Regions from separate parts of the Homo sapiens genome. Here region 2 is linked to region 1. Evidence: fine-mapped expression QTL. Tissue or cell type: whole blood. Region 1 holds a variant in brackets; the other region holds the start of a gene. All regions are shown on one strand. Distances are from middle to middle.

Region 1 (8,000 bases):
AGCCTTGGTACTATTGACATTTTAGGCTGGATAATTCTTTGCTGGAAGAGTGGGAGCTTGTCCCGTGCATTGTGGGAAGCTTAGCCACATCCCTAACCTCTACCCATGAGGTGCCAGCAGCATTCTCCCCCAGTTGTGACAATCAGAAATGTCTCCAGACATTGCCAGATGGCTCATGGCAGAGGGCAGGATCCCACTCCCACTGGGAACCACTAACCTAGGGAGAGACCTAAGGAAGAGGAGACTCCATTCCAGGGGGAGGGAGGGAGGAGTGAAGGGTTGGAGAGTTTACTGGGTACCTGTCATGAGTAGACTCAGTGAAAAGTGAGGTAGGAGAGAATGCAAACACCTCCAACCCAGACCTAAAGATTATGTAGCTCTTCAAAAGTCATCGCATGACAGGTAGGAATAGCTAATGGAAGAGCACGTTAGGCCAGTTTCAATGCAGAAAAGGATTCTTAGAGAGCAGAAGTCAGATAAATAGAACAGACTTTGTCACTAGCTCTAGTAGAATTTGACATAAGGTAAGGTTACCCAAAGACCTGCATAGGATAATTTTATTCATATACTATGAAAGTTCTTTTGATATACCTCATGTGTTGGAAAAGGGCTTTGATGAATTAACTTCACTTGTGGATTGAGCCTTCTAGTTCAATCCACAAACATTTAACACGTTGTATGTGCTGGACACTGAGGGATGCCAGAAGAGCAGGTGACAGCCACAGTCCCTGCCCTTGACGTACCTCGGTCTAGTAGGGAAACACATAATCCCACACTATGATTATACTCCTTGGGAAGTGTCTTGTTAGAGGGGTGGCTCATTAGCACTGCAGAAGCACAGAGGGAAACCCTGCCTGAGGGAGGGATGTGTGCATATTTATTATCTTAACGTTTATACTGCATCACCAAATGTTTTATCACATATTTTAGGATAAGCAAATTCGGTAATATTAATTTTCCGGGCAGAGAGACATTAGATGAAACATGCGGGGCAAAGTGTATGGGAAACCAGAAGCACGGCCAAGAGTGGTGACCATAGAGAATTCCTATAGCAGCACACACACAATTTTATTTGACAGTATTTAATTATGCTCACAATTGCATTACCTTCAACGTAGATCCTTTATGCAGAGGATCTACTACAGTGGTATTGCCCCTCCCACACTTGTTAAACATGTGATATGTCTCTGGTTGGTTGTTTGTAGGACATTTAAGTGATTTAACACTTCGCCTCTTCACCTTTTAAATTTAATAATTCTTTTCCTCAAGTTGACCTATCCATATCCTATTCCAGACCTACTTTTCTTAGAGCTGTGTGGTTGTGTGACTCACTTTCGGAACGTCGGCCTACCTAGTGGGGCAAGTTTGGTTTATGATGATATGTCCAAGGAATTTTTGTAGTCTTAGGCTCAACCTAGAATGATTTGTACTGTCATATTCCATTCAAGGTTATCTAGGATACTACCTTCTCCCACTCATTTATACTCAAACACTTTGCAGTAAACTTTCATACTTCCTCATTCTCTCCTAGGCCACAGCCCAATGCAGTCAATCACCGAGTTATATGAGGTCTCGATAATATTTTGTACATTTCTAACTGCATTAGAATTCAGACCCCCATCACCTTGATTCAGAGAACTAAATCTGGTAGTTTTACTTCTAGCAGCACTCCCTTCCAATTTATTCTTAACACTGTCATTAGTAAAGCTGTTACAAACGTAGTATCTTGCCCATCAGCCCACCTTTGCTCCACTGAGTACACAAGTCCCCAGATTACTTTCCTCAAGTTATCCTTCGCATTGCTAGTGTACATCCTTCAGCAGCAGCCAAAGTCCTCTCCTTTTCTAGAGGCCCATGGTCACCCCTGCCCCCAGATCTTTGTTTCTAGCATCCCTTTCTTCTGCTGGGCATTGTGTCTTTTTCCAACCCAAGTACTTAGAGTGCCATGCGTAGTGAGTGCCTGGAGGGTGGTATTGATTAGTTTTACCCCCATTATTGGATTGCTTGACCTGTTTCCCAGCTGAGGGATTTACTGGACAGGTATGCTCATCTTATTTTCTGAGATTGTCTGATATCCACAGGTTAGATTAGTAATACTCAGACAGAATTAGGGAGAAACATTCTAAAAATGTTCAAATTATTTTCATGGATATTCTTGAGATTGGTTGCTAAAAGTCTGTAGTATCTTACTGTTGAATCCATCACTCTGTTGGTGACATTTACATGAATTCTGAGACATATCAACTCAAGTCTTAGGAAATCTGGGAATATGCATTTTTAAATTTTTCCTGTTGAGGTTTTAGGAAACATTTACTATATGACTAACCATTCCTAGTTAGAACCCTTTTCAGTCAGGGCAGAACCACCCTCAGAGGATGTTAGGAAATGTTTGGGTTCTGTATTCGTTTGCTCAGGCAGTTATAACAAGTTACCACAGACTGCGTGGCTTAAAACGCAGAAACTTGGCCAGGCACAGTGGCTCACACCTGTAATCCCAGCACTTTGGGAGGCTGAGGCGGGTGGATCACGAGGTCAGGAGTTTGAGACCAGCCTGACCAACATGATGAAACCCTGTCTCTACTAAAAATACAAAAATTAGCCAGGCGTGGTGGTACACACCTGTAATCCCACCTACTCAGGAGGCTGAGGCAGGAGAATCGCTTGAACCCGGGAGGTGAAGGTTGCAGTGAGCCGAGATCACACCAGAGATGCACTCCAGCCTTGGCTACAGAGTGAGACTCCATCTCAAAAAGCAGAAACTTACTTCTCGTGGTTCTGGAGGCTAGAAGTCCGAGAAAAAAGCATGTTTGGTTTCCCCTGAGGCTTCTGTCCTTGGCTTGTAGATGGTCACCTGCTCACTGCATCCTCACAGCGTTTCTCCTCTGTGCCTGTGCATCCCTAGTGTGTCTCTCTCTGTGTCCTCATTTCCCCTCCTAGAAGGATATCAGTTACATTGGATTAGAGTCCACTCTAATGGCCTCATTTTAACTTACATGCAGTCACTTTCTGAGGCATTAGGAGTTTGGGCTTAGAGGGGTGGGACAGAGGATGGGGTAGGTAACCACTGAAGATGCAGCCCAATTCAGCCCATAACAAAGGCATTATTTTTTGTTGCCCCAAAGTGTGGAGGTCTGCTACTGGCATCATGGGCAGGGGGTCAGGCATCCTAAGTGCTTGCAATATGTCAGAGAGACCTCCACAGGAAAAATTGTTCTACCCCAAATGCCCGGAGCAACCCCTACAAGAAGTACGGCTAACGAATACTTTGTGTCTTGTATTTATCCTCATATTGCTTCCTTATTTTTTTTTTTTTTTGTCACATGTGAGTCAAATTGTTCAGAAAATTAGCCCAACTGATGTATTCTATAAAATAAATGTCTGAAATATTTCTTAAATTGTTTCCTAGATACACCCTCCGTGGACTTGGAAATGATCGATGTGCACGTTTTGGCTGACGCTTTCAAACGCTATCTCCTGGACTTACCAAATCCTGTCATTCCAGCAGCCGTTTACAGTGAAATGATTTCTTTAGCTCCAGGTTTGTTTTTTCTCTTCTGGGAACCTCATTGAACATACATGGAGATGTAGAGGTGCTTGTATATGTCTTGCATATATAGAAATAGTGGTTAGAAAATAGTAGTAATAACCTGTCCCTCCCCCAACAATACCACCTCAAATTTCCTCCTCCACCCAAGCATCCAAGAGAAGACCCAGATTCTCATTTGCTTGGGAAGCCCGTCTGCATGTCAGAATCAGAAATGGCTCATTGTTAACCTATTGGTCTTAACAAAGTTTGTACGTCAATGAAGGACACGGTCTTCCAAGTACTAGTGTCAGATTCAAGGAACTGGGACTAGAATCCAGTGATGGGGGATGTTCTTGTCATCTTTCCTGAGTGGCCATAACAGAATGTGTTGAGGGAAGATGGCTCTCAGTTTTAGGAGATAAGGTTCAGTTAAGTGCTTTGGGGACAGGAAACTGGTTCGTAACCTTCAAAGTTAAAACCTGTGATACTTATCTGATGCTCCTCTGAGTTAGCCAATCACACTTGAAGCTGCTCAATACTGGGTAAGTTGCTGCCAGCACACCCTGAACAGCT[T/C]GTGGTTTCTTTACACACTGAGCTTTTTGCATTTCCATTTGACCTGAGATTTCTACTTTCTCATAATGCGTTTTCTAATGAGAAGGACAAATGTACTGTGTGCTTCTCCCAACAACTTTTTAAATGACTCCTATAGCTTGAAGAAAGAGCAGAACTTTTCTAGGTGTTTATTCACTGATACCTGGAAGTAGTCGCTTACTCATTTCTCTTTTTTTTTTTTTTTAAACTTGTAGAAGTACAAAGCTCCGAAGAATATATTCAGCTATTGAAGAAGCTTATTAGGTCGCCTAGCATACCTCATCAGTATTGGCTTACGCTTCAGTATTTGTTAAAACATTTCTTCAAGCTCTCTCAAACCTCCAGCAAAAATCTGTTGAATGCAAGAGTACTCTCTGAAATTTTCAGCCCTATGCTTTTCAGATTCTCAGCAGCCAGGTAAGTGAAAGGAGACAAACATGTATTTTGGGGTGATGAGGGTAGTCCTAAATGGATTGGTCATGAAAATGTATTCTGAATATACTACTCCAGAGATGCATGTGCAGATGCTATCACACACATTCACTTGAGTGTATATAAATGAAAATGAGTTTGCTTTTAGGGAAAAGGTTTCTAATAAACTCTCTTTCTTACAGCTCTGATAATACTGAAAACCTCATAAAAGTTATAGAAATTTTAATCTCAACTGAATGGAATGAACGACAGCCTGCACCAGGTAATGCTTTTTGAGCATTTAACATTCTCTCATTGTTCATTTTTTAGAGCCTTAAAAAATGATGGCTATAAACCTCCTTTGAAGTAACACAGCTTCTTATGGAATTACAGTTGGTAGTAATATGTTACCTTGTGATTTAAAGAAAAAATAGCTGAGTGGTAGTGTATATGTTAATTATTATCCGAGTTTCAACATTTGTGGATTTTAAATTATCTTGGTTTTAGGTGAGAGTTTGGAGAGTTCCCTGTACCCTTCAACATTTATGCTTCAGGTTGTTGAAGAGATTTATGGAGTTCATTTTAGTTGTTGACATTTTTGTTTTTCTTTCTAATACTTACAAAGTAGGGGATTTATAATTACTATATAATTTAAAGTATTTTAGAATGTGTTTTTTGGAAGTGGGTATGCTGAGAAATGCCTGTCAAAATAAACATTTTCAATAATGCAAGCAGTATGAAACCAGTGTTCCCTGCAGCAAGTTCGAGCAAGCCAGACACTTCTTTGAAAGCAGGCTGCTGTTCAGTTAGCCATTTAACAAAGCAGGAAATGTAGACCATGTTAGCAATGCATTTAATTTAAACTGATGTATTTTTCTTCTACCGTGGAAAGTCTAAACAACCTCATTTTGCTATATACCAGTTAAAAGTTAGCTAATCGACACTGGTCATTTAGAATAGTAATTAGGGTACTATACGTGTGAAGTTTCAGGACCAGTAAAAGGTGTTGCTTGTAGTCTTAATTTATGCCTGGAACTTAAAATGAAACTCCATGAATATATTTATTATAGGTAATATATGCAGATTACCATATTTATCTCTGTATGAGCAGGCATGGGGACTCAGTTTCATCTTCATGCAATGGAGAGTTAAGTTGTGCTTTTTCTTAATTGGGTATTGCACAGCCAGGCTTGGTTACTTGCATCTGGATGGGGCAGCCTAAGAGAGGCCAGGGCCTAGACTCAAAACCCACCTGCAGCAGGTAGGATAGAGGATAGGGTAGGTAAACACTGAAGATGCGGGTATTGGGAAAGGTTTATGTGGACAGGCCCAAAATGTACCAAAGGTGAGAGAGAGGTATCCGGTATAGTAGATAAGGCAAGCATGGGATGTTCCAAATCACAGCAAGCAGAATGTTTTAACAGGGGTGCCCAGAATTCTAGGTAAACTACGTCAAAGAAGACTGTCAACAGGTAGGGACTAGGACTTCAGTCCAGGGGTTGGCCAAAAGGCTTCATCTCGTGTGAGTACACAGGTCACTGTGAATGGATTTGGGAGCTCTGTGCTGGTGTTCAGAGGCTGCCTTTGGACTTAGTGGAAAAGAATTGGGGTAGGGGTGTGGCACATGGCACTTAAGTTGAGGTTTATGTTAGAGACTAGGTAGAGCTGGACCCTGCTCTCAGTGAAGGGCTAGTGGGTAGTCCTGATCTTTTCAGTGGCCACTCCTCTAGAGAGAGGAGACACATGGAAGCCAAAGCCAGACAGGGTTTGACAGATACCCACAAATGAATTTATCACATGGAATTTTGGAGAATTTCTACTACACAAGGTATAGCAGAATCAGTGGTAGAGTTTGATTAGCCTGACTGGTGTAAACTAGTTAAACGCCTTTGTTAGTTTCATCCTAATTCCACCAAAGTAAAAACGGGTATCTGCACTATTTTCATAATGCCACCCGGAAAGCTGTTTGATATGTCAAAGGACCCTACATTTCTCTGCTGAGCAATTGGTGCGCCTGTTTCAAAGGAGGATTAGTTCCATCAGCTCTGCTAAAGGATGACAAAGCCTTGAACATTTGCTAGATCATCCCAGTATTTATGTGGCCTCTTAAAAAAAATTAAATCCAAGTCGGTTTTAAACTCTAGTTTGAGCCGTTTTCCCAGGAAGTTTGTGTGATTTGTATAGGACCTTTGGAATTAAATGGCTGTTTTAGTGTCTCTCATGTGTGCATACATTGTACTGCCCACTCCAGGAACAAAACGTCCCCATCCAGAACATCTTCGTATTCAGGAATGGCTCCAGTGCAAATGACTGCTATGGCAGCCTGGGTTGAAGAAATGATTCTTAGGCCTGGTTTAAAAAATGCAATAATTTCTTAGAGTCCTTCAGCATTGCCACAGCATGTGCTAGTACCAGACAGAACTTTGAAAGCACAGCACCTTACATCTCCAGCGAATGGCCATTTACAGTAACATTGTTGTGAACACAAATGAGTACCTGAATGATGTTTAAGGGAGACAAAAGCAAGACTCTGTTATAGGGCAGATAGACAGCATTTCTAATTATTACCAGATAGAACTTGAAATGACAAAGCTTATGATGTTTGAGGCAAAGTATCAGTTCAAATAAGAGCCATTAGCACATAGTATCTAATTAAATGCTAGGTGGGAGTACACATACTCTAAGTACAAAAAGAACTTTAGAAATGCAGCTGGTGACTTTCTAGGGTAATGGAGTAGACAGAAAAGGCTCATAGAAGAAATAGGGCTTGAAATGTGCCTTGAAGAATAGGTACAATTTGAATAGGCAAAGGAGAAATAGCATTTTGATGCATGGAGTTTAAAGACTTATTCAAAATAAATTACACAGTACAAAATAATGGCTTGGTATTTTACAAAAGCAGTACATATTTTAAGTGATAGTATCACAAAAAACATCATTTTAGAGTTGAAAGCATTGTCCAGCTTTACCAATTTGGACATGAGGAAACCGAGGCCCACAGATAGAGGTTCGCTCTGTGCTACCCGGCCAGTATGGGCCCAAACCGGGTCTGCCCAGGAGCCGCCTCCTACACTCCAGCCCATTCTATCTGCCATGCCCTGCTGCCTGGATTTTTGGAAACTTCGTGAGCAATGAGGCTGCTTTTAGTGTCCAATCAAAAACTCCTCTGAAGTTTCCAGCATGTAATAAACTAAAAATATGTGAAATTAGCCCCCATGGGTCACATATAGTAAACAAAGTCAGGGCAATGTTTATACTTTTCAGGATAAGGCTCCAAATCACTCCATGAGCTGTGCAGTGGAAAAAAAAGTGGGCTTCTGACTCAAATAGATCTGGATTGGAATCTCAACTCTCTCGAGTAACTCAGCTTTTCCAAATTGTTTTCCAGACTGTGGAATTGGGTTAATGCCTCTCTCCTGGGGTTGGTATGAGATTTAATGAACTGATAATTTCTCTGCTATCTATCGCATCA
Region 2 (10,372 bases), 65 kb before region 1:
GAAGGTGAAAGGCACATCTTACATGGTGGCAGGTAAAGGTAGAATGAGAGCCAAGCGAAAGGGGAAACCCCTTATAAAACCATCAAATCTTGTGAGACTTATTCACTACCACGAGAACAGTATGGGGGAAACCACCCCCGTGATGTAATTATCTCCCACTGCGTCCCTCCCACAACATGTGGGAATTATGGGAGCTATAATTCAAAATGAGATTTGGGTGGGGACACAGCCAAACCATATCATTCAACCCCTGGCCCTTCCCAAATCTTATGTCCTCACATTTCAAAACCAACAGTGCCTTCCCAACAGTCCCCCAAAGTCTCAATTCATTTCAGTATTAACTCAAAAGTCCACAGTCCAAAGACTCACCTGAAAGAAGGCCAGTCCCTTCTGCCTATAAGCCTGTAAAATCAAAAGTAAGTTAGTTACTTCCTAGATTACAATGGAAGTACAGGCATTGGATAAATACACCCATACCAAATGGGAGAAATTGGTCAAAGCAAAGGAGCTAAAGGCCCCACGCAAGTCTGAAATCCACCAGGGCAGTCAAATCTTAAAGCTCCAAAATGATCTCCTTTGACTCCGTGTCTCACATACAGGTCATGCCGATATAAGAGGTGGGCTCCCATGGTCTTGGGTAGCTCCACCCTTGTGGCTTTGCAGGGTACAGTCTCACTCTCGGCTGATTTCATGGGCTGGCATTCAGTGTCTGTGGCTTTTCCAGGTGCACGGTGCAAGCTGTCGGTGGATCTACCATTCTGGGGTCTGGAGGACAGTGGCCCTCTTCTCACAGCTCCACTAGGTGGTGCCCCAGTAGGAACTCTGTGTGAGGACTCCAACCCCACATTTCCCTTCTGTACTGCCTTAGCAGAGGTCCTTCATGAGGGCCCCACCCCTGCAGCAAACTTCTGCCTTGACATCCAGGCCTTTCCATACATCCTCTGAAATCCGGGCAGAGGTTTCCAAACCTCAATTCTTGACTTCTCTGCACCCACAGGCCCAACCATGTGGAAGTTGCCATGGCTTAGGGCTTGCACCCTCTGAAGCCACAGCCCAAGCTGTACCTTGGCCCCATTTAGCCACGGTTGGAGCAGCTGTGGAAAAGGTCTCTGGCAAGCCCTAGAGACATTTTCCCCATTATCTTGGTGATTAACATTTAGTGCCTTGTTACTTATGCAAATTTCTGCAGCCAGCTTGAATGTCTCCTCTGAAAATGGGTTTTTCCTTTCTATCACATCAGGTTGCAAAATTTCTGAACTTTTATGATGTGTTTCCCTTTTAAAACTGAATGCTTTTAACAGCACCCAAGTCACCTCTTGAATGGTTTGCTGCTTAAACATTTCTTCTGCCAGGTACCCTAAATCTTCCCCCTCAAATTTGAAGTTCCACAAATCTCTAGGGTGGGCCAAAATGCCACCAATCTCTTTGCTAAAACATAGCAAGAGTCATCTTTACTCTAGTTCTCAAGTTCCTTATCTATATCTGAGACCACCTCAACCTGGACCTCATTGTTAATATCACTATCAGTATTTTTGTCAAAGCCATTCAACAAGTCTCTAGAAAGTTCCAAACTTTCCCACATTTTCCTGTTTTCCTCTGAGCCCTCCAAGCTGTTCCAACCTCTGCCTGTTACCCAGTTTCAAAGTCACTTCCACATTTTCAGGTATCTTTACAGCAGCACCCCACTGCTGCTGTAATAATTTACTGTATGAGTCTGTTTTCATGCTGCTGATAAAGACATACCTGAGACTGGGTAATTTATAAAGGAAAAGATGTGTAATGGACTTAGAGTTCCATGTGGCTGGGGAGGCCTCACAATCATGGCAGAAGGAGAAAGGCACGTCTTACACGGTGGCAGGCAAAGAGAGAATGAGCGCCAAGTGAAAGGGGAAACCCTTTATAAAACCATCAGATCTTGTGACACTTACTCACTACCATGAGAACAGTATGGGGGAAACTGCCCTCATGATTCACTGATCTCCCACCAGGCTTCTCTCACAACATGAAGGCATTATAGGAGCTACAACTCAAGATGAGATTTGGGTGGGGACACAGCCAAACCATATCAGGTAGTAAGTATTCCAGTCAATAATTTTTTCATGTTTCTCTTAATATGTAATTAACCTGCATAACTCACAATAGGTGCAGATTTTAATCTAAGTAATGCAAAGATTCATTCTACTTTCCCACCCCCAACACATCAGTTAGCAGGCAGGAGAAAGAGAAAATAAAAATATTGCATAGAAGACCATAGTGTTTTGCCCCAGGGTTGCAAGCATTGATATCTCACCCATTACCAATTCCCAGTCATTGAATGCCTACAGTGTTTGGTTCTGTTAGAGAACAGAACATTTAAAACACTTGACTCTTTAGATCATGAGGCTTACATTCCAAGAAGCCAGTACTCTTCTTGGGTGATTTTTTTTTCCCACTTTATTTTATGATGTGCAGCATCATAACATCACACTAACCTAACCCACATTTCAAAAAAATCACACGAATGTGGCCTAACCTATATTTCTAAAAAAGGTTGAATTCATTGCCAGCATTCAATAATTGGAAAATAGTCCATAAAAATCTGTATTTTCAGCTTCTCTAGGAAAATTGGAAAATTTGGGCTCACATTCCTGTGCGGCAACAATTAGCTAAACTCTAGTTCAGCTGCCCGCTTTAAGACCAGCCATTTGTACTCTACTGTACCCAGAGGGCTTTCCTAATAGCGCCTTTCTTAAGTGGCTCCTCCAAAGCAGTGGTTCCTAAAATCTGGCTTCCCACTGGAATAATGTGAGGAGCTTGAAAAGTTACTAATGCCTGCATTTCACCCCAGAGATTTTGATGTAATCCATCTGGGGTGCAGACCAGGTATTGAGATTTTTATAAGCTCCTCAGGTATTTGCAATGTGTAGAGAAAACTGAGAACCCCTGTCTAAGATAGGGCTTCTCAAAGTTTAACTTGCATAGGAATCACCTGATAATCTTGTTAAAATGCAGATTTTGATTAAGTATGCCTGGGATAGGGCCTGGGATTCTGCCTTTCTAACAAGCTCTTACATAGTGCCAAAGCTGCTGGTCTATGGGCCTCACTTGAGAAGTAAAGGTCTAAGCCATTTGTATTTCACATTGGCTTTGAACCCTAAGATACATTCTTAGGTTTCAAGTCTAATGAAAGCTAATTCTAGCACTCACAATATTGATGTAGCTGGAATGATGATGCCAAATGAGAGTATCCTACCATACTTTGGGGAGAATTCTTTCTCAGCCTATAGCTACTCAGCCTTTCTTGACATTGGGGGGTCCTTGACTTCTTATGCCTTGTATGTGACACCCCTGTATCACCCCTTTCGTTGCAAATTGTACATCTTCTGCTATTTCGAGCTCCTTGCTGGTGTCACTACCTGCTGGCCAACAGTTTGGCCATTACTGATTGAACCATGGTGTTTGGGTACTTAATGTGAGTATTTTATTGCAGAGGTTTTCAATCAGTGTTTCCAGAAGCCTTAGAGTAATAGTTCTGAAACCATAGGGCATGCATCAGATCACTTGGAGAGCTTATTAAAATACAGATTGCTAGGCTCCACCCTCAGCATTCCTGATTCAGTGAGGACAATTTGAATTTCCAACAAATTCTCAGGAGATCCAGATGTTTCTAGTCCAAGGATCCAGAGGTTCTAGACAGAAGGAAGGGAGGTGGTGCAATGGGCCTCTTGGTCTTGTTACATGACTTCTTATCTTATAGTTGTATTTGGGGATTCTAGACTAGATTTTATTAAATAAAAAGATTATTTTTAAAAAAGCTTGAATACTGCTGTTTTGTTGCCTTTGCTTTTGTTTCATAGAAATCAATTGAAGGTGAAAATAAATAAAAATGCTAATACTAGTGATATGGGGAGATATCATCAGTTTAAAACAAATGAAATACTGAATTTATTTAGTATATGAAAAGAGAGCCTTATTTTCTTCCCTTGGGACACTCTTTATGATGAAAAAACGTAAAGGAAATACAATGTATGCTGGAAATAAATTACTAAAGACTGTGTCTAAATGAGGAGGTGCATTTGGGAATTTTATTGTTTTTAGGTTTGCGGGTGAACAGAATCCCACTGCAATAGTGCATAAGACTCTTTCCAGCTATCTCCAGAAGAAGGAGATAACTAGCAAGGTTTTCACTGTTAGAGTTTGTTCAGAGCGGAACCTAAAGGAAATACTGGGAAGGTCACAGCAGTTTCATCTCAGCTTATTGGATTGGATCAAAGTAATTCTACTGCAAGGCAAGGTATATCATTCCATTTACAGACAGAGAATGCATGAAGTCCTTCATTTCACACAGTAGGTGTGAAGAAGGTACCTTGGTAAATTTCCTATTTGCTTTCAGATAAAGTGTATTCTTAAACATGATGTGGGTAGCTGCCTGTTTTTGTGTCGCCTCTGCAAGAGACATCTTGGAATAATAGAAACACCAGTGTCTGAATAGCCTAAAGTGGAGCTTACTTTTCTGTTAGGTGAGTCACCTTTAAAAATGATATTTTTTAAGGATAAGCGATGAATTTTAGGACGTTCTTCCCTCTACTTCCAACGTCCACAAGAATAAACCACCAAATTCAACGTTTTACAGAGGCCAAGTGCTTAGGTTTTGTGTGTTTGTTTTTAAGAGTTTTCTTGCAAGGAAACTGGGAGGGAACTATAAAAGGGCTTTAGGCAAACAGGGTGGGCGGGTGCAGGGCTTTAAGCTGCAGAAAGGAGAATCTGGAAAGAGCTTTTAGGAAGCAGATTCTCACATGTTTTAATATGAAAGAGTGGCACACGTGGTGCTGGCATTCCATCTTACCATCAGTGGAAGGTTTGAACCAACATCAAATTTTTCTGGAGCAACTTAGGTAATTATTACTTGAAGAATATGCATTTCAAAACTAACACCTTTAAGAGACAATGTAATTCACCTGCGCTTCCCCGCCCCCCCCGCCCGCGCCAACCCCACCCCCCGCCAACCCCGCCCCCGACTCCGCGAACGCCGAGGGGCCCGTGGTCTGCCTGAGTGACCTCCATTTGCTCTGTCATCTCAGGACTAGAAGCCATCAGCCAGCGTACGCCCTCAGAAAACTCTCTTCCCTTCTCGCGGGTCCGCCTGGCTCCCGGAGGCGGCGGTGCCAGGCTGCCGGAGTTAGCCAGCGGCAGGCTGCGGGCGCCCGTCCCTCCGGTTCACCCTTTCACCCCTCCTTCACCCCCGGAGCGCCAGGCGGGTGCCGCGGGTTTTCCGCCCACTCGGAAGGCAGTGCTGGCGAGACCAGGAATTGCAGGGCCTCTCCGCTTTGGCGAGCTCTGGAATCCGAGTCCTCCCCACCCCAGCCACTCTGCTGGGGCGCTAGGGGCTCGAAAAAGCCTGGGGTTGGCTGAAAGACACTCGGATTAGAGACGCAGCCAGCCTCCAGGGAGGTCTGAACTTGTCTTCGACCTCCCCGAACCCCTCCGCCTCTGCGCTGGGAGACGCCCAGCAGCCGGGCGGGCCCGGGACGTGTAGAGCCAGAGCACTCCGCAGCGGAGGCAGCGCGCGGCACGGCCGCCCGGGGCATCCCCGCGGCTGGGGGGCGGAAGGCGAGGGCGGTGGCAGGAAGGGTCCGCCAGGCCTGAGCTCGCTCCCCCACTGCCAGCCGCCGGCTCGGAGGCCCGAGCCGTGCGGACGGAAAGGGGCGGAGCCGCGGGCTCTGGTTGGTGTGGGCTCGGGGGCGGGGCGCGCGGGGCCGGGCCGGAGGCGGGGCTAGCGCCGGGCGCTGGAGCTGCGGGCGCACGGAGAGGAGTCGCCAGCAGCTGGAGCGGAGTTGGAGGAAGCAGCGGCAGCGGCGAGGGCGGCAGGCTAGCTGTCGGAGACGGCAAGCACGGATCGGGCACGGCCGGCGGGTCGCAGCCGGGCTGGAGGCCGGTCGGAACCGAGCGGGCAGGAGGCCACCGCTGCAGCGCGGGCCCCGCAGAGGAAGGAAGCCGGCGGGCGGGGTAGGTAGGCAGCAGCAGCCCCGGGTGTGTGTGCTCGGGCGGGGGAGGCGGTGCATGTGTGCACGGCTGCCGCGACTCTCTTCCTGTCACTGGCAGCGGCTTCTCCTTCTGCAGAGCCCCGCCGGGGGGAAGCGGGCTGGCCACCGGCCCTCCCCGCCTCCGGCATCTCCTGGCCGCCGGGCAGCACTACCCCCGCGCGCGGCCGGCGTCCTGTGAGATCCCCGCCATCCTGACTCCCGTTTCCCCCGTCCTCCTGCGAGCTGGTCCTGCACGCCGCCGGTCGCATTTGCCCCCGGAGTTGCCGACGAGCTCGGGCTTCCTCCCACCCTCCGTCACCGCACACTTCGGAGGGTCCCCGCTGTCGCCTTGCTGCAGTTTTCCGGGGCCCCTCACCGGAGGAGAGCGCCCTGGCCGCTGCCTTCGTGTTGCGGGAAGGAGCGCTCCCTTCCCCCGTGGCCCTCCAGCTGCAGCCAGGGTCGCTGCCCGGGCCCTTCCCGGGGCGGGCGAGGCGGCGGTGGTCCCCGGAGCTCGTCCCCTAACCCCCGCCTTCCGAAGTTTGCCGCCCTCCTCTTCCGGGGTGGGGGAAGTGCGCCTCGGGGCGGTTGGTCGCTGGGGCCCTAACTCAGCGTTTATTGCCAGCCAAGCTTGGGCAGGTTGTTGGAGGCATATTTAGTGGGGTCTTGGAACCGCCCGGAAATCCAGCTTTTGGAACGTGGGGCGAGGCGGGAGGGACCTGCCCAGCAATATGGAGCCGGCTGGGGAGAGCCAGGGAGCCTGCAACCCGGAGCTAAAATATCGTGGGCAATTCTCTGGAAACCACAGCTCTAACCTAAGCTCAGAAACTGCCCCTCAGATCACAAGACAAAGAGAACAGAAAACCTCTGGCCAGGCACTCCTGTACAGAAATACACTTTGATAACCAGAATTGGAGCCTGAAATGCAAGGATATATGCAGAATGGCTGTTACGTGTTGAATGCAGAATGTGTGTCAACTGGGTTTGGGGGAATTCTTCTGTTTCCCGGGGCGCTATTAATATCGGAAAGGTCTCACTTCCACCGTTAATCCCTTGAGCTGCAGCGCTGTTGGTGTCCGAGTGTGAGTCTGCTCTTTATTTGGGGGCTTCATGATTTTAGGTTTTTTTTCTTTTTTCTCTTCTTTTCCTCTTTGTCAGCCAGTGCGAAGTACCAATGGATAAAGCAGTTCCGGGTTTTGAATGCAACATAAGATTGTCATTTTGGTGTGATGAGGCTCAAGTTTTAGTAATCAGGAGGGATATTCACAGAGCTTATTGGTCAAGGCTTGATGTGGAGTTATATTTTAATGCTTCATTAGTTCTGTTACGTTTTGGCAACCTTAAAGATGGTTAGATATTAGCTAGGAAGGGTTGGAGTGGGCAGACAGGTTCATTTCTTAAGCAGGTTATTAGAATATTAGATTGTCACAGTTTGAATTACTAGGAATTTGGTGACTTCTGCACAGAAGGCCACAAGTATCTTTTAACATTGAAAAAGGAAGAAAAAGCAACTCACTAGCTATACAACTTTTTGACAGATTACACTGTTCTTGAAAAACCGTTTAGAAGAAAGCAGATAAGAGTTTTCTTAGGTGCAAAAGTTGATTAAACTTTAGGAAGCAAGTGTTTTTGACCAGTATAAAGAAAATAAGAGTAATGTGTGGGGGTGTGTGTGTGTGTGTGTGTGTGTGCGCGCGCGTGCCTGCGGCTAAAGTTTGGGAAGAAATGTTGGTTCAGAGTTAAGGTTTAAGTTGGAAAGGCCAGTGGAGGAGGCTCCCTGCCTTGCAGAACTGCTGGGTATTGTCACTGCTTGCCTCTTCAGCTTTTATATGCAGGTAGGTACTAGATAATCATATTACTTTTTCCAGAGAAGTGGATAGATTTTTATGATTGGGAGAAAGTTTAATGTATCTGATACTGGCTTGCAAAGTGTAATGTGCATTTACTTTTAACTTTCATCTTGACTTGGGACCTGTTCTTAGTTGCATAACAGAACTCTGCAGTGTACACACTGCTATTTGATGTTTTATCTGCTTTTTAAAAATAATGATATCAGTGAGTCTCTTCCTATCCATGATGCTGTATAGTCAGTGTAAAAAGCATTTTGTTTCCCATTTATTGAATGTTTTTTCTTTAGCGATTTCTTGAGTTTAAATATACTAAGCGCAGGAAATCCTCACAGAATAAAGTTGGTTCTGGGAAACAGAAGTGGAACAATAAGTTATAGGAATACATATTTTGATTATAGACAGTGATGATGGTGGTATGCGTTTATCTTTTGGTAATGTCAGTTTCACCTAACGTGATTTTTGAAGGACTTTGAATTGTAAATGCAAACCTACTCAAACTAACCCAAATTTTGTACTGTTAAAAGTTTTGGCCATTTCTTTACATTTTTCCATGACTGTCATATAATTTTTAGGTTGATATGTTGATTGAACATATCAACCTAAATTGATATGTTCAATCAACATATTGGTCGTTCAGGGGAGTATTGTAAAAAGGCATCTACTCTGAAAGATTGTTCACATGATCATTAAAATAGGAACAATTCTAGTTCAGCTTTTATTGTGTTTGCATTTTGTGATTTGCAAAATACATGTTTTATTGAATAAAGAGATGGTGAATGAGCAGGCTGAAAAAAAATTGATTTTTATGCTCAAGTAGAATATAGCCAGTTGAGATAATGTTTGTGTTGGGTTTTGGAATTCTCTCACGTCAAGGCATACACAATGCAAAAGATATTGTATGTTTCATATGAGCTCCTCCAGCTCTCCCTCTTGCAGGGCACAGGGTTTGCAAGTGAAGGCAAGAGAATGAAGCATTTTAATGAAGCCCTGGAAGACTAGAAAGTTAGTTATCAATGGAAGGAATTATCAAGTTAGTTTTTACTTTAGAAAGCAGAATATAAATTATATCACAGCTTTTTATCAAAACCTAGGTTTTAATTAATTTTCAAAGTATTCATATCATTTACTGCATTTTCCCATGCCTCCTTTACGTACACCCTAATGCCCTAATGTGATTACTTGCCATGATTCTGCCAATACTTGTATGGAGTTACTTGCTTAAAAGAGTGGCAATTAACGACCATTTCATGTACATTAAGCCACATGAGCTGAAAAAATAGACTATATAGTTACTTATAAACTTGTCTGTATGGCCTTTATTTATCCCCTAGGTGTTAGGTGTTTATTTATTTGAAAGGCTAGAGTGATTGTAGTATAGTGTTATTGGAAAAAATGTCTACTGTAGAAACATCTTTGGAGATTTTATTCTGCTAGCATTGTTTTCCTTAAAGTAAATCAAATACATATCCACAGGCACCTGTAGTCAAAATAGTTGTCAGGTTAATGATCATCCAAGAGAGTATTGAAGTCACAGGAGTCTGGCCACAGTGTGAGGAGGCTCCACCAGTGAGTGTAGTGAGTTAATAAAGCCAAGGCATCTGGACCAGCCATTCCTTGCCTGTTGTCTTCCTCCCCGGATGTCCCAGTGTCCCAGCCTGGGGTTCTGCCCCAGGATCAAGGGCTGTACCATGAGGACACAGCTACTCATCTCTAAATCCTGGGGATGCACACACACATGTACACATCCCTTGGCCTCTCCCAGGCCTCCTTTGTCCTGACCTCTGTAGAGCCGTCCTCTACCTCAGGTAAGGAGAGAACTACATGGGCAAAGTCCACACTCAGCCTTTATCTATTTACTCCAAAAGGGGTTTAAGACAGCGGGAGTTTTATTTTAGCTAGATTCAGGATTCACTTAGAACTGTTTGCAGAGTTAAGAGGCAATGCAGAAGAAAATCCCTCATAAATGTTTGTTCCTCTGTTAAATCTGAATTGTATAAATGGCAGTAGGTGACATTCAATACTAATAGAAATAATAGTAATATAATAGTTGCAATTTACTAGCTATGTAACTTTAGGCAAAATATTTAACTTTTATCTGCTTGTTTTCTCATCTGTAAAATAGAGATAATTGTTGTACTTAGAGTGATTGTAATGGTTAAATGAGTTGATATATGTACAACTCTGAGAACTATGTGCCTGGCACATAGTAAGTACTATGTTGGCATTAATTATCCTAAGCTCCTATTATCAAGTATGGAGCGAAGTGCTTTATGTATGTCATTTTGTTAATCCTCATAATGACTCTGTGGGCTGTAGGTTTGCTTATAGCTGTCTCACAGATGATAAAACTGTGCCACAGAGAGGTTTAAGTAACTTTCCTGAGGTTACATATTTAGGCACAATCTGACTGGGGCAGCTGCCTGAATCTGAAGCTCAGTGTTCATACTAACCTTGCCAAGAAGTTTACAGAATAGCATCTTTTTTTCAAAAGAAGAGAGACTTGAAGTCATCCCCTTCAGTCCT

What was found. PIP is the estimated chance that this variant, and not a neighbour inherited with it, causes the effect.
Region 2: it holds the start of PIK3R1, and the variant in region 1 is fine-mapped to the expression of PIK3R1 in whole blood (TOPMed, PIP above 0.99).

What each region holds. Positions count from the first base shown.
Region 1 is chr5:68,276,196-68,284,195 of GRCh38, forward strand. It overlaps PIK3R1 (phosphoinositide-3-kinase regulatory subunit 1), which reads left to right. Exons shown (of 16, transcript NM_181523.3): 5 at 3,407-3,538; 6 at 4,333-4,534; 7 at 4,732-4,811. Among named protein-coding and RNA genes, the nearest start is that of PIK3R1, 64 kb to the left of the region's middle. The variant T/C (reference allele first, on the strand shown) is at 4,100.
Region 2 is chr5:68,209,965-68,220,336 of GRCh38, forward strand. PIK3R1 (phosphoinositide-3-kinase regulatory subunit 1) reads left to right here and starts at 5,792. Exons shown (of 16, transcript NM_181523.3): 1 at 5,792-5,985. RefSeq lists silencers at 4,969-5,188, 5,409-6,508.